2 separate regions of the Homo sapiens genome follow, and region 2 is linked to region 1. Evidence: fine-mapped expression QTL. A gene starts in region 1. The other region holds a variant in brackets. All regions are shown on one strand. Distances are from middle to middle.

Region 1 (5,388 bases):
TATTCCTGGTTATTTAGATTAGAAAGGAAATAAAGATGTCAGAGATTATCACTGTATATTATTTTGGTAGTTACTATAAAAAACAATTATCCCTCATTTTCCCTCAATTCAGAAAGAAATACTCTTCATAAAATAGGCACATATCAAAGATAACTACCTCGAACAGAACATCAACTTATTTATATAGATACATCAAATGCTTTTTAAAAGACCTTACATGATTTTTAAAAGGATTCTTTGATTTAAGAAAATACAAGAAGTAAATTGGGAAATAAGCAAATACATTAAAAAGCTCATTTTCTTTCACATCAACAAATGAACTAAATATTTTTTAAAAGCAGAGAAGAAATCTCTTATTTTATGGAACCATAAAATGAGGTTTTGCTTGTGAGTCATCTTCTACAGACCTAAGTAAAAAAATATTTGGGGCATATATTTAAAATGATGATGTGGTTCAGTCTTTAAATGAAAAAAAAAGTCAATTATTTATCTTGTTGCATTGTCATATATCAAAGTCACGTGAAATGTGATTACAATTCAGAAATATCGGTGCTGAAACATTACTTGTTACTTTAAAATATTCAGAGTAAGCTTATAGTTTTTATCCTATCTATTATTACATATTTTTGAAAATTGATAATAATGGAGATGGGGTCACCATAACAACAATTTATTAGTTAAATTGAATTAATGTATGTGCTTTAATTAAATATGCTAAAAAAGTCTTTGATTTCCTAAAATGTACATTACTCATGACAGCATTTGGAAATTTTAAATTTCAAAAACTTAGTCCAACGACTAAAAATACATTATAAATATGACAATAACTCCATCCACAAGCAAATTAATTTCATTTTACCTTATTTTTATTTTAGTTCTTCATTAAAGTTTTGACTAAAATAGAAAATCACAGTGCCTACTACATAGTTGGTGAACACAAAAAATAATTTTAACTGTTTCCTGAAACATTAATACAGTTCTGTAATATTTTAATGACCTTTCTGAACATTCTAAGCAACTCTGTAAGAAAGCAAAATTGATATACAGTGTGGTTAAATTTTTCGTAATTTATTTTGATTGAAAAAATATCAGTGCATACATAGTTTACTTTAAATATTAACAATCTACTTTATTTTTCAAAAATTCTTGGAAATCTTTTTTATTGTGTAAATTTAAGATGTACATGTTTTAATATACATATACATAGTGAAGTATAATGATCTACTTTTAAAGTCTACAATTAGTGTTTACTTATAATTAAATATGATTAATTTAGCCAGTTGGCTCCTGGTAGTATCTCCAGTAATAGAAAATTATCATAAACCAATATATCTTGATTGCAACAGCCTGTACCTTTATTGTCTGTTCAGATTCTTTTCACATCAGGTCTATAATGAAAAGCTAAGTCACAAATAGAGGTATTAGAAGACACACAAAGGGGCCACTGTTCCCTGGAACAAATCAAATTTTCAATAACTCATAGGTAATTTGAGGACTTCCCTTATATAATCACCCAACAAACAATTAAATTCTATAGATTTTTCATCTAACAGTCCAGTAAGGGGTTCTTAATATACATAACCCATAAAATAAATTAAAAGTAAATCAAAGCATATGTTTAAAGTCCTTGATTCATGAAGAAACCAGTTGGAAAACGCTGAAGTCCGAATTAATGTCAAATATTTATACTCTTGGGTTTGGCAGCAGAGGTGGGTTCTCAGGAGAGACAGCACATTCCAAATGATGTTTTCTATTCTTCTCTCAACCCCACTCATAAAATGCCTTTCTGTTACACAGTAGGATCACTGCTTGATTAATAAACACAAGCTGATGTTTAACGTTAACTGGTAGTACATAGAGACGAGAATTATCACTCATCTTTACTTAAAAACAAAACTTAAGCAAGATGCTTAGGCAGTGGTACTTCTGCACCAGAGTCCTTTGCATTTCTCAAAGGAAACAAACCTAAGAATGTGATTGAAATGGGGAATCGGAGAACAAATGGGCACATAACACAGGAAAGCTCAGAGGGGGCTGTCTCCAAAACAGAGTAAACCAGTTGTGTGGACAGTGATGCTGGCATAGCTCAGGGATATGCCAAGCCCCGATGTGTTTGCTATTTTTTGCTGATACTGGGAGCCTAACTGAAGAAAGGGGACTTTGAGGAGCCTAACATTGGCTTCTCTTTATTTAATGCGCCTTTAACCAAGCGGAATTCGCTCTATGCCGACTCCAGTGGGGAGCCTTCAACCCCGAATCTGATCTATCTGCCTTAAATCCGTGAGTTTTCACCGCGATCTCAAACCCCGGATGCCAAGAGAGGAGATCAATGCCAACACGAGATTGCATGCTCCTCTGACTTTTGTTTGCTTGGGTTTTCATTTTAGACAGACACTCTTATCCTCTTTACAGAGCCTAGAAAGATTGCGAATAGCCCGATCCCTCATCAAGACAGCCCCAATCACAGCCACACAGAGCGTAAAGAAACCCAACTCTGTTCCCAGGGTCATGTCACAGAGCCGCATCTCCGCGGGTGACCGCCTAGACCTTTCCTTACGTTGAACTGCTTGTGCGCGGAGCAAGGGGAAAAGCATCTCTTTCAATTCCTCCCGAGGCCACTCTTTCTTTATGGACCCACCTGCATGGGCGCTTCGTGTCTCATTGTTGGCAAATGTCCTTTCTCTCTGGCTAGGACCGCACTGGTCTGGGCTTCCGGTCAAGCGTGCACAGTCCCGGCGCTCCACGCTCCACACTCTGCACTCTTGGGGTTCGCTAACCGGCTCCAACATCAGCACTGGAGCTGTCCTCTCCTGGCGCCGCACACGCGTACTGCCGAGGAGCCCCGTGCACTCCTGGGAGCTGTAGTCTCGCCCTCCGGGTGTTCCCGGCAAACGGGCGAGCGGTGAACTACAACTCCCGGCAAGCAAGCAAACCATTAAACAGGCTCGATCCGCCAGTCGGGCTCGGCCGCGGAGCCTCCCTACTCCTTTCCAAACGCTCCTGGGTTACCTCTCCCAGTCTCCCCTGCTCTTTTCCTCGCCAGGGGCAGGCGAATGTGACCCCAGCTTATCTCAGCTGGAGATTTTTCTTTGCTAACTATCGCCTTCGGAAGTAGATGGTGATTTTCTGATTAGGAAACAACACTACCTTGTGCTAATTTCCAATGCAAACGAAGCCAGAGCTGGTCTCTGGGACTCTCCGCCCTACCCCTCCCCATCCGAATCGGGAAAGTTTCTACGTTTCCTTAGGCAGAGTGGGGCAGTTTTACAATCTCATTCACCAAACGTAGGGGAGAAAGACGATTAACGGTACACACATAAGGAAAGTGGTTTATCCGCATAATTGCACTGAGAAGTCGCGCGCGCGTACATAGTCACACACACAACCCGCACACCGAAGTGCGTGAAAGCGAGATTTCTGGCTAAGCACCCCAAGGAACTCCTTTCGCCTGCTTACCTTTCCATACAGCTCCATTACAACTCGAGGTTCAGAAATTCTCAAGTGCCCTCGCTACAAAGGAGGTTAGGGCTCTACGTAGGAAGCGGGGCTAAAATGAAAAGGCACAACACAATAGAAGGGGTAGGGGTGGCGTCTGGCGGAGAGAAAAAGGAGGGATGTGGAGAAGACAGCTGATTTAGATGGAGGGCTTCTTTCCTCTGGAGGGAAAGCGTGGAATCCAAGCTGCAGCTGCAGAGAAAGGGCTCAGTCTCTTAGGAAGTGCCAGGGGCGCGATAGCGCTGGCCAGCCCCTCCCCAGGCCCTCCCCCAGGCACCTTCCGCCGTCATTAGCGCGCACACACTGCCGCTGGCCGCGGGCTGCAGAGCTGATAGGGCACTGGGTTATTTACCCAGAGCAAGCCACATAAAATGAACACATTCATCACCGGAACCCAAAAGCACCGTGACAGAATGAGATGGGAGACCTCTATTAAGTTATCCTGTCCTTTCTTTAACACAAAGTCATTCCTTATATTACAACTATACTCCTCCCAGATTAGTTCAAAAAAATGGTTTTGAAATCTAGGAACTGTACTTTTGTTAGACTTATCCTTTTCCTGTCAGTTGACTGATAGGTATGACTATCCATGTCCTCTGTAACTATCTAGAGACAGCCCTCTCTACTTAAAAGTAAACGTTGATCATCCAGCAAATCAGCCCTGCCTTGTCATGAAGTCAAAATTATAACGGAGGCAGAGTGAAAAAGGAATGATTGTGATATTGGCATGGAGGTATGGAAGGAATAACTTGAATCAGCTTTAAACTTCATTGCAGCAGTAGAACAGAGGTTCTGAAACTTAAACGTACTTGAAAATCTGTTGAGACGGAGGTTAAAGTTAAAATTTTTAAGCCACAGGTAGAGATTGATTCACTAGATCTTTTGAGAGGTCTGGAAATTAGCATTTTAAATAAACACTCCAGCAATTCTGATGCAAGTGGTTCCCTTGCCATAATTTGAGAAACATTGTCTTAAAAGAATCTATGTGTAACACTTTTTCAAAGGTGCAAACCTCAAAAATGTCACGGTATGGACTCAATAATGCAACAGTCTAATATTGGGAACCTACCATATTCAATATTTCCATTAATTTTAGTTGATTGTATTATTTAACAACTCTATAATCTGTCTTCTAATCTTGCAATTAGTGAGAATGTAATGCGATATCACCTAGGTAAGTAGTTTTTATAACTATTCAGAAAATACATTTAAGCCAGGTGTGGTGGAGCGTGCCTGCAGTTATAGTTACCCTAAAGGCTGAGTTGGGAGGATCATTTGAACCTAGAAATTCGAGGCCAGCCTAGGCAACATAGTGAGACACCCCCATCTGAAAAAAAAAAAAAATAGAAAAGGCATATATTTAAAAACATAAACCTCATAGTTGAGAGTAGTGTGATGCTTAGAGAAGTTTCGTGTAAATTAGCTAATAACAAAATGGAAAGTTAAAAGAAAATCCAATACCAATACGTATCACAGTAGCAACTTATTAGAAGTATGACTTCTGCAATTTTTAAAATTAAGATGTATCTAAAGATGCATCTCTTTAAAAATTGTTTTCAAGAGAAATGCCAACAAAATAATCCTGACATTTAAATGTATAGAATTGTTTGGCATTTAATAATATTTGCTTAGCTACTTAGAGCCTGCCTTTCTTCAGAACAACTTCTTATGTATATTGTACTATCATCACTTTCTGAAATTCTCAGAATTCAGTCTGATATAGAACATATTTAAACCTTATAAATATTTATCTTGCAAAATTACTGTTCTTTGAGAAGTTTATCCCTTCTCAACATTTCACTAAAATTATATATATCTTCGGATTTTTTAGTATGTCTTTTATTTGTGGAAGAACCCATGAAAGTTTAGTTTAAAGCTGGAGTTTTTAAAAAA
Region 2 (5,388 bases), 33 kb before region 1:
CTTTAGGATGTGTAAAGGTCATTCAGTTTATACAGATTTTTAAATAAAGGGCTGTTTTCTTTTTTAAAAAAGTTAAAATCCTCTACTCTGCGATTTGTTTGTTTTTTGTTTTTAGCTTTCCATATTTATGAAGGGAGGGTTATTGTCAGTCCTATTGATCAATCCTGGCACCAGCACCAAATGGTAGTAGCTGTTGTAAATGTCTCAGAAGGAGCTAGAAAACACCTCTTGGGAAATGCCTGATTACAGATCAAATCAATTTGAGTGGCAGAGGTACAAAGGAATAGGAAAAAGGTGCCAAAACTTACTGTAGAAACATTCTTCCTATGTACATATTACGATGTCCATAAAATATTTACTACATCAGTCTTTTTTGGTGTAACAATTTTTTTAAATTGGCTGCTCCATCTTTTATATTGCCTTGGACCTGCTATCCACATAGATTTTCCTCTGTTTTTTGCTCACTGGTCTCCTAAATTTATCCCACCAGTTTGGCTAAGCTACCTCTGATCTTCTTCTGGAGGTAAGGAGAGGCAAAAAGCTAACCAAATGGTCTCAAAACTTTGGGAGAACCTTCTACTTTGGAAAGACCCTGTTTCAAATAAATATTTCATTTCATTTGTTTTATTTGCATATATAAACATAGCTCTTAGAGTTGAAAACAGTTTGCACAGTATAAATAGACCATCTCTGAAGTTCTATCTGGAGCTTTATGAAGGGTCTAAACCTACACTTTTCCTATATTTGGTTGTTTATCTTCTTCTTTGAAATGCCCAGGAGAGGCTGCTTTCTGTGACCTAAAAACCCAGAACCACTTAGCTTATTTTATAGATTACAAAAATGTCAGAGAAGGAGTCACAGACTTTCTCAAGGTTACAGAGATCATAAAAGGCAAAGCCAGACTTAAAGTGTTCCTTCCACCACCAACAAGATAGAGGTTTGGATTTTTTTTTTATTCTGAAGACTCTTAAGGAGCACCACATGACAACAAGGCATAATAATAATTCACCCCTCATGTCTTAAAGAGGCATCACCACTACTTTCTTTGAAACAGAATGTTCTGCAGCAAAGAAGCTGGAAATTGAGGCTTGTGGATGCCCTGGGGATAGAACAAGGCAGAAAGTTTCTCCCTTACAAATGGATATGTTCAACACCCCAGCCTGAAGAACACTGCCAGTTCAAAGCCACTTACCCAAATCTGAAGCTTGATTCTCTTTTCATTTTTGAATACAGTTTTTACTTTGAAATCGATCCCAACTGTGCTGACGAATGCAGATGTAAAGGAGTCATCTGCATAACGGAATAGAAAAGATGTTTTCCCCACACTGCTATTGCCGATGATGAGTAATTTGAACATGTAGTCAAAGTTCTGATCAGAGGAGTCTTTCTGGCCGTACCTGGCATCTTGGGCAGAGGCCATCTGTGATAAAAACAAAACAAAACAAAAACAAAATAGGTGTAGATCAGACTCTCATTTGATATGAAGCTAGCAGCATACTCATTATTGGCCTTGCCAGAAACAGATGTCAGACACTCAGGAGGCGAGTGGTGAGTGCTCCCCAGTCTTCCTCTGATATTGGTATCCATGGCAATAATTCCCTGCTGGAAGACAGAATAGCAAATCTTACAGGCCTTTCCAGCTGTGTTGGTGCATGTCACTGCTCAGCATTCAGAACCAATCAAAGACACCAAAGGGGATGTCTATAAGGGTAACATGACAAGCAAAGAGATGAGAAATTGGCCAGGGCATGTGGGCTCTGAAACTTTATAATCCTACTGACAGAGACACCAAAGTGGCTGAACAGCAGGGTATTTCTTCCTGAATTATCTGAATGATTCGAATCTCTCTTATTTCATAGGGAAGCACACCCAAAGCATATCTCTACTTCATTTATTATCATATCAAATCAACATCCTAACATAAAGGGCAGTGTCTTTTAAATTAAAAATAATTATGATGGCAAATATATATAGTTCAAACAATGTGCCGGATACTAACTTATTTAATCCCTCACAGTAACCCAATGAGATGGGTACTTTTAATATTTCCATATTAAAATGAGAAAATTGAGGCCCAGAGATATTATTAAGTAACTTGCTCAACTTCATATAGGTGTTAATAGTAGAGGCAGGATTCAAACAAGCAGTGTGGTGCCAGGGCTCATGTTCTTGACACCTGCCCTACTTCCAAATGACGACTAGGGAGGCATGCGCAAGTGCCCTAGAAGATCATGTCGGAAATATTCATTGTGAAATGCATCAAAGGAGAGCCTGACCTGGGTTCAAAACTTGGCTCCACTCTTTACTGGCTGTGTGACCTTGGTTTGTTATTTTAAATTGGTGTGCTGCAGTTTCCTGCCTTAGATGAAATGGGAAAATATAATATCTAACTTGGAATTCTTGTGAAAATAATAGATGATACAGCTGTAAAGCGATATGTAAAGCATCTAGCATAAAATAGAAAATGGTCTCTACAATCAATTACAAATGCTTTAGGTGGATATTGGCTTTTATTCATCTTTTTTGATGATCATCTTAACATCTATCAAAAATGATATTGCATTACTTCTAAGTACCATTTGGCTCAATATAGAAAAGAGGTATTTAGAATGTTGCATCCCACTGATTAGTACATTTGCTCAGCACAGTTTCTGATGCTATAAATTATTTGGCAATTGTTATTCTGTTTAATATGGTAGCCACTAGTCACATATGGTGATTTAAATTTACATTAACATGAAACAAAATTAGAAATTCAGTTCCTCAATCCTACTAGCCACATTTCAAGTGCAAAATAGCAGCATATGACTAATGGCTACTATACTGGACAGTGCAAATACAGAACATTGGCATAATTGCAGAAAACTCTATTGTACAATGCTAGGCTAGAGAGTCTATTTTCCATTTCCCATAAAAGCTGATTAATAGTTACTTGTTTCTCTTTGGGGTAGGGGGAGGAAAAGGGAGAGGCTCCAAGAGATGGAAAAATGTTAGAAACAGGAAACAGTGCTCAGCCTCATCTAGGACAACACTGGTTACCTGAAGTCAGGGGTGTGTGTGTGTGTGTGTGTGTGTGTCTGTGTGTGTGTACACGTATGTTTACAGAAAACTGAGGAAAAAGGAAAAAGGGAAATGGTGAGATTGTGTATTTCTCTTCTACAAATACTTAATGCCAGCAAGATAAC[A/G]CAATTTTATGTATAAGAATAAGGACAAACAAAAAACCCGTGGGTATTTCATGAAAGTTAAGGATAATAAAGACTCAAATTGCATTTTACATTTTCTTATTAAACATAAGCTTAAGCATTTCTCTTTTTAAGTCTATACAGCCACACAAATATATTTAGAAATTGTGAAAACCTATAACAAACGCTTCCCAGTGGGCAGAGGTCGGCCTCTAAAACAGGCAGATAGCATCACTTTCTTTTTTGGCCCACCAGCCCACATACTAAGGTCAACTTTCCCCAACACATGCCGGCCAAAGGGCAAAAGTAGGATTGCAACTCTTGACCACTAGTTTGAACAATGATCTTTTGCCATGATGATTTCTGGTCCCCCAGAAAGCCAGTTAACTGTTTTATTTGGCAGTGCTATTCCTGCAGACATTGTCCTTTCATCATTTAATGCTCCTCTCCTATATGAGCTGCTAAATTCAAACAGGCCTAAAAATGGCCTTCATTAAGAAGATTATTTTACCTTTTTTCATATGAACCAGACTGGATTTGGGGGTCTGGTAAGAATGTTCAGCTAAGCCACAGCCAGAAAAGAGACACTATATATTTCCTAGAGCTGCTCACTTACTTGGCCTGATAGCTTACTATCTGTTACAGCCCCATAACCCTACGGTGGCATTCAAACTGAGGCCCGAGGATCTCTAGGATACCTCAAAAGTTGTAATGAAGACTGCTGCTATCAACTTCAGGTCCCATTCCAAAATTAAGTTGGTTTCAAAACCTGAAGAAACATAATTGTCCCTCGGTATCTATAGGGGTTGATTCCAGTACCTCCCATGGACACCACAATCTGCAGATGGCTCAAGTACTTGATATAAAATGGTGTGGTATTCACATATGACTTATGCATATTCTCCTGTACAGTTTAAATTATGTACAGATTATTTATAATACCTAACACAATGTAAATGCTATGTAAACAGTGGTTATTATTCTGTATTATTTAGGAAATGATAACAAGAAAAAAAGTCTATACATGTTCAGTACACATGAAATTTTTTCCCAAATATTTTATATCTGCAATTAGTTCACTCCACACACGGGAGCTCATGTATATGAAGGGTGAACTATATAGATATCACTAATATATAGTCTTTTGGAATATGACTGTATGCATTTAGGTGAAGACAAGCACAACTGGGACAGCAACATCTTTAATTTCAAGGGCTAATATACCTTGTTGTGGTAGCAGCAAAGAAGGTAATGGGGGCAAAAGAGGGGGTCTAGGAGGGACACAGAGCTGGTGGACATGTGCACCCAGCAAAATTCTTCTCAGGAAGAGCCTCTAAAGAATTAATTAGGAAAAGTTATTAACTCACTTACTCTTGAAGACTGTTCATGGGTTTTTTTTTGTACTATTTCCTAATTTAACACACCTAATAAGATTCCACAAAGAGCCAAAAAGATATGCATTTGGAATGTATGTGTGTTTTTGTATAACTTCAGAATAATGAAATAAATCCTAGCTCAGAGGATGAAGAAAGAAACAGCCCTAATCTTGCTGAGACCACAAGTGAAGCAATTTGACAGCATACGAATGTCAAAGAGGTTTACAGACAGGCACTATGTAAGTTTACTGATATCTCTAAATACTAAAGTCATGTGAACATTCTCAAAATTTTCATGGGGAAACATAGCTGAAATTTGAAAATAGGAACAGTCAAGGGGAACATCAAATTTCATAAAAGATATACAAAAATAACTCTTCAAATGGCATTAATCTTGAACTTCAAATAACAAATAACCATAGAGTTGGAAAGAATCTTCAAAGGCCGTGCAACTTCCCACCCATCCCATGTCCCTTTCATGGCATCCATCATCTGAGGTTGTTGTCCTAGCTTCATCCTTCACACTGAGCAGCAAGATGTTTACTATGCTGTGAAGAAGCCTTTACAGCATAGAGAGAACTTCAGGTATCTGAAGGAACCCCTCGGGCTCCATAAGCTTTCTCTCCTCCTGCTTGGATGATCCCAACTGATTTAGCCTCTCTTCCACATAGGACGTGTCTGAAAAATTGAACACATCCTGCTAGGTTAAAACTGACACCTCTTCAGATTTTCAAAGTCCCATGTGTGGCTTTCATAATTGGTCACAATATTCTAGATATTTACCTACTTAGTCCAAAGTAGAATGAAACCATTATATCTTATCACACTTG

Direction of the effects. Alleles are on the strand shown, and positions count from the first base shown. SD is a standard deviation of normalised expression in the study named.
For the expression in cerebral cortex of the gene that starts at base 2,796 in region 1, G is the low allele of the variant in region 2 and A is the other (small effect, 0.13 SD a copy in GTEx).

The links. PIP is the estimated chance that this variant, and not a neighbour inherited with it, causes the effect.
Region 2: its variant is the best candidate, but not a certain one, in a credible set for the expression of RAB3C in cerebral cortex (GTEx, PIP 0.51).

Annotation. Positions count from the first base shown.
Region 1 is chr5:58,580,483-58,585,870 of GRCh38, reverse strand. RAB3C (RAB3C, member RAS oncogene family) reads right to left here and starts at 2,796. Exons shown (of 5, transcript NM_138453.4): 1 at 2,639-2,796. The coding sequence starts at 2,662. RefSeq lists a silencer at 2,790-2,989.
Region 2 is chr5:58,613,675-58,619,062 of GRCh38, reverse strand. It overlaps RAB3C (RAB3C, member RAS oncogene family), which reads right to left. Exons shown (of 5, transcript NM_138453.4): 2 at 1,193-1,420. Among named protein-coding and RNA genes, the nearest start is that of RAB3C, 33 kb to the right of the region's middle. The variant A/G (reference allele first, on the strand shown) is at 3,186.